2 separate regions of the Homo sapiens genome follow, and region 1 is linked to region 2. Evidence: fine-mapped expression QTL. A gene starts in region 2. The other region holds a variant in brackets. All regions are shown on one strand. Distances are from middle to middle.

Region 1 (3,009 bases), 49 kb before region 2:
CTCACACCTCCATGGAGGCAGAGATGGAGGGGGCCCGATGGGCTAAAAGTTCTGACCCCGTAATCGTACAGTGCAGAGGGATTCCATGTGACTAACAAGACATGCCTATCTTCCAGAAACTCCAAGGATTTTAGGAATTCTTTACTAAGGACCAGGGGCAAACACCAAATATGTATTTTATTATATGATATATTCCTATCAGCTCCCCCAGTTAAACATATGATATGAGCCAAACCCATGCGCTTGCTATGCAAATGCAACTTCAAGACCAGGCCCCTAACACCACCTTCCAAAGAAATTCAGGAGCTACTATTGCTATCCAGTGAGACTCAATCGGGGCCAGCTAGAAGGCCTGGGCACACCACTTCACCTCACCTCCAGAGTGCTTTCCTCTCTTGTGAACTGGAGATAACTCAGGTCTCAGTCTCAGAGGGTTGTGTAAGATGATGTGCGTCTGAGTGCCTCGCAGGTAGGGCTTGCACGATCAACATTCAGTCCTCCTCCTGAGAATTATTTAAGTCCCTGGTCCTCCTGGCCCCCACTGTGCTGTTCTCTCACCCCTGTGGGAATGTCCATGTCTTCCTTGTCACGAACCCCAATCCTCTCCACACACACACACACACACAAACACATATGACACCCCCACCCCAGCCACCACACCCAGCACCAATAACTGCTACCATCAGATTAATATGAGAGGCCAGCTATGGTGGCTCACGTCTGTAATCCCAGCACTTTGGGAGGCCGAGGCGAGCAGATGACCTGAGGTCAGGAGTTTGAGTCCAGCCCAGCCAACATGGTGAAACCCCATCTCTACAAAAACACAAAAATTAGCCGGGCGTGGTGGCAGGTGCCTGTAGTCCCAGCTACTCAGGAGGCTGAGGCAGGAGAATTGCTTGAACCCAGGAGGTGGAGGTTGCAATGAGCCAAGATCATGCCACTGCACTCCAGCCTGGGGGACAGAGCGAGACTCTGTTTCAAAAACAACAACAACAACAACAACAACAACAACAACAACAACAAAGATTAATAGTGAGGAATTCATTTGAGGGCCTTGGGTGCTAGGCCTGGTTGTGCCACTATGTGACTACAGTAACCATTTGTACAAAGTTGTGGGGGTGTCTGAGGTTCTTCTGGGCATTCTTCACAAGTTAGATCAGCCATCAGCATGAGTGTGAAGCAGAGAGAAGCCGTCAATAAGGATCTTAATAACTTAAACATTTTATTATGGACGAAAAGGAGAGGCTTGAGGACTCAAGCCTAAAGGCAACTCCCCAAGGCCAAGATGAGCCAGGGAAGGTGAGGTTATACCTGAGCCTTAGCAGGG[G/T]CCATGCAGAGCTGGGATGTGATCGGTACATGGTGGAAGTCTACCGTCCGTCTCAGCCAAGCCTGGAGAGACCAGAAGCAACACAAGACCCTACAAACCCACCTATGGAGGGGCAGGGAGAGGCCCAGGTCAGGCCACCCTCACCTTTCAGACAGGAGGCACTTGGTTCTCTAAGATGAAGAAGGGCGGCTCCCACCCAGAACATTCTGTGTCACGGAGAAGAGGTTTCCCAATAGCATCTTCCCCAACCTAGAAATGTCTGAAACCTGGACAAAGACAGACACTCAAAGAGGATCTCTGCGGGCATGTGGGGATGTCAGGGCCAAGGCGTGACTTCAGGGCTAGAGTTCCACCTTCCACTTCCGCAGCTTCTCGTCCATGGCCTGGAGCGTGGCTTCATCCTGCGCCAGCACAGATTAGTCCTACACTCTCCCCATGTGCCCAGCCGGCCTTGGGAAGCTCTGTGAGGTCTTTCCTCCCCCAGCCCTGCCCTTTACCTTCACAAAACAGAAGCGGATATAGTGGTCAAAGTGCTTCTGATGTGGCACACTATAGAAGATGGAGACAGGGATGGCCACCAAGCCCTGGGGAGGAGGAAGGACATGTCTCAACACGGCCTCGTGGCCCAGCAGGCCTTGGCTCCGGAGGGGACAGAGAGGTTCCCACGACCAGGCGGGGAAGGAGAGTTAGCTCCAATCCAGCACCTAGAGCTGCATCAAAGTCAGAGGAACAAGGCCAGGTGCGGTGGCTCACGCCTATAATCCCAGCACTTTGGGAGGCTGAGACGGGTGGATCACCTGAGGTCAGGAGTTCAAGACCAGCCTGGCCAACATGGCTAAACCCCGTCTCTACCAAAAATACAAAAATTGGCCGGGTGTGGTGGCGCATGCCTGTAATCCCAGCTACTTGGGAGGCTGAGGCAGGAGAATTGCTTGAACCCGGGGGTGGAGGTTGCAGTGAGCCAGATTGCGCCACTTCACCGCAGCCTGGGCGAAAGAGAGAAAATCCATCCAAAACAAAAACAAACACAAAGTCAGAAGAAAAGAATCCCAGAACATCATTCCAAGTCCCTCCCTGGGTATAGAGGGCAGAGGGAGGCTGACAGAGGGAGGATCATGGAGCAGGTCAGGGCAGAGCCAGAGAAGAACAAAGCCTTAGAGTCACAGATCAAACCTGGATGAACTCAAGAGTTAATGGGCCAACTCCTCACTGTACAGATGGGAAGATGGAGATCCAAAGAGGCAGGAAATCCTGCCAGCCCACACAGCATCTCTGTGCAAGTTAGAAACAGGTTCCTCAGGCCAGGCACGGTGGCTCACGCCTGTAATCCCAGCACTTTGGGAGGCCAAGGGGAGTGGATCATCTGAGGTCAGGAGTTGGAGACTAGCCTGACCAACATGGTGAAACCCCGTCTCTACTAAAAATACAAAAATTAGCCAGGCGTGGTTGTACATGCCTGTAATCCCAGTTACCCAACTACTCAGGAGGCTAAGGGAGGAGAATCGCTTGAACCCTGGAGGTGGAGGTTGCAGTGTGCTGAGATTGCGCCACTGCACTCCCACCTAGGCGACAGAGTGAGACTCTGTCTCAAAAAAAAAAAAAAAAAAAAAAAGGCCAGGAGCAGTGGCTCACGCCTGTAATCCCAGCACTTTGGGAGGCCGAGGCAGGTGGATTACAAGGTC
Region 2 (2,500 bases):
TCTCGCCCTGGCCCAGGTACCCAAGACCCCAATTCTGTCGGAGACAACCGCAATTAACAACTTCTTGTGCATCTTATCAGACAGCTGGCGCGCACACCCGCAGATACGCCCACCCTCAGGCGTCCTTCTACGCAAAGATGGATAGCACCCATCAACGCTGTTTTTTCTTTTTTTAGACGGAGTCTCGCTCTGTCGCCCAGGCTGGAGTGCAGCGGCGCGATCTCGGCTCACTGCAAGCTCCACCTCCCGAGTTCATGCCATTCTCCTGCCTCAGCCTCCAGAGTAGCTGGGACTACAGGCGCCCACCACCACGCCCGGCTGATTTTTTTGTATTTTTAGTAGAGATGAGGTTTCACCAAGTTAGCCAGGATGGTCTCGATCTCCTGACCTCGTGATCCGCCCGCCTCGGCCTCCCAAAGTGCTGGGATTACAGACGTGAGCCACCGCAACCGGCCCAACGCTGTTTTTACTGTTGTTTCCTTTTTTAACCTAAGGTATCTTAGAAGTCACCCTACATTAGTGCATATTAAACATTGTTCGTCTTAATGGCTGCACAGTATTCCACTGTATGGATTATTTTTTAATTTGGTTGCCGGTACTGTTATCAGCCAGGGAATTTGCGAGGACCCAGCGGGATTTATGGAGCTGCAGAGTTGGAGTCTGGGGACCCAATTCCAACCCCAGATCTGTCCAGAATTCTGTTGTCTCGGGTATCATCTCCACCGGCGCGGTCGTGGGAGGGGGATTTGGGTGCAGACAGGACCAGCCCCAGTGTCCGAGCGAGAATCAGCGAGCAGCACGCGCAGTTGATTCCCGCGGGCGGCTCAATCATTCTGTGCAGCCACTCCGTTATACTTAGTAGCATCAAACTCATTAAGCACTCTAGCACAACCAAGCTCGGAACCGTTAGCCGACCCTCCCAGCCTCGGCACCTGACCTTGGGGAAGTGGCGCTCCGACACAGCTACTCACCCTCACCTGGGCCGCTTCACCCCTCGTTCCCAAGTACACCCCGTAGGTTGCAGCAGTCCCTGTCCCTTTAAGGGGGCCGAGCCCGGCTCCGCTACTTCCGCCCCGAAGCAGCAGGGCGCTAGCGCGGAGGCGAGAGCGGGAGAAAGCGCCGCTAGAATTCTCCTCATAAAGATGGCGACGCCCTGGCCGCCGCGTTCGCGCCCGGCGGTGACGTCACTTCCGGGGCGGAGGAGGCTGAGTGGTGCAGTGAGGGACAAACAAAAGGAGGCGCCGGAGCAGCGCTGCGGCCGGCGGCGGGACGGAGCGGCCGGGGCCTGGGGCTGCCTGCCGGGCGGCCGGGCGCGGCGAGCCCAGGTGAGTGGACGGGGTGGGGAAAGGGGCGCGAGCTGTCACCTCTCGAAACCCACTTACACACGCCCTCGGCCAGCTGCCCGGCCCGGGGCGCCCGGGGCATCTGGGGCTCTGTCTCCGGGCCGGCCCCCTGGGGACCTCCCGCGGTGTTCGGCCTACCTCTGGGCTCCCCAGTGCCCGGAGTCTCCGGGGCACCACCTTCTCGCCGGCTCCGCGGCGCGCGAGCCCCCTCCCAGGCACCCCTGTGCCTCCTTGTGCTTCAGAAACCAGGAGTTTCCGCCTCGGCTCCCCCATGTCCCCTTGTCATCCCCTGGGTCCCCCCAGATCCTCACCCCTCCACACACACTCTCCCGTTCCTAGAGGTTCCACCTCTGGGCTCTCTCCTTGCCATTTCTTTTTCAAAGATTTCCTTAGCTGTCTTCTCCTGAGTTCCTGGTCCCCTTCTCTTCCCTTGCACCCCTCCTTCCTATCGTTCCGATGGGGGCAGTGCCCTGACTTGGGGGCAGGATCCCCGGCTAGGCTCTTGGGGCCTTTCTGGGATGGGATATTTGGGAAGACCGGTCCGGAATCTAAGAACCCAGACCCTGTCCCAGTCCTGTGCATTCAGGTGGGCCCGAGGGCGAGGCGAGATCCAGTGAGGTCCAGGCCTGGTGCAGCCCTAGGTGAGCTGGATACCCAGCAAACTGAGCTCCCAGGCTGAAGGGGCATAGCTGGGGTCATGGAGTTCATGATGATTCTGCTGCTTTCGCTGACTGCTTCTTCCCCTTGATCTGGACCGGGGTGAACCGAGGTCTGCCGGTTCTCAGCTGTTGCGATTGTTGCCTTTTTTGGGAAGGAGGGATGGGTCGGGGGTTGTCTGGTAGCCGCCTCCTGATGGAGACTTGGCTGGAAGGGTGGGCGGTTCCTGGGTGAGCCACACTTCCACTGACTCCTCTTCCCCTGCCCTACCTCAGGAAGCCTTTTGAGAATGAGGTGTGGAGGGAGAGCACCTGGTAAGAGGAAGGGAACTGGGGGAGCCCGAAGTTCCCAAGGACCTCTTCCACCTCTTCTGTTAGTAGTACTCTTAACCCCTGCCAAACTGTATTCTGCCCTTTGGAGCAGACAACCTGGCAGACAGACAGGCTGTAAGAAGCGGGAGGAGATCGGCTGTTGCTGATACTTCCTGTGGAGGGGATGTG

What was found. PIP is the estimated chance that this variant, and not a neighbour inherited with it, causes the effect.
Region 1: its variant is fine-mapped to the expression of KYAT1 in whole blood (TOPMed, PIP above 0.99).

Annotation. Positions count from the first base shown.
Region 1 is chr9:128,831,916-128,834,924 of GRCh38, forward strand. It overlaps KYAT1-SPOUT1 (KYAT1-SPOUT1 readthrough), which reads right to left. Exons shown (of 25, transcript NR_182311.1): 12 at 1,825-1,911; 13 at 1,312-1,728. It overlaps KYAT1 (kynurenine aminotransferase 1), which reads right to left. Exons shown (of 13, transcript NM_004059.5): 12 at 1,825-1,911; 13 at 1,027-1,728. The coding sequence ends at 1,669. Among named protein-coding and RNA genes, the nearest start is that of SPOUT1, 3.6 kb to the left of the region's middle. The variant G/T (reference allele first, on the strand shown) is at 1,328.
Region 2 is chr9:128,880,926-128,883,425 of GRCh38, forward strand. It overlaps KYAT1 (kynurenine aminotransferase 1), which reads right to left and starts at 1,025. Exons shown (of 13, transcript NM_004059.5): 1 at 972-1,025. KYAT1-SPOUT1 (KYAT1-SPOUT1 readthrough) reads right to left here and starts at 1,025. Exons shown (of 25, transcript NR_182311.1): 1 at 972-1,025. It overlaps LRRC8A (leucine rich repeat containing 8 VRAC subunit A), which reads left to right and starts at 1,208. Exons shown (of 4, transcript NM_019594.4): 1 at 1,208-1,325. RefSeq lists an enhancer at 1,095-1,244 and a silencer at 1,275-1,554.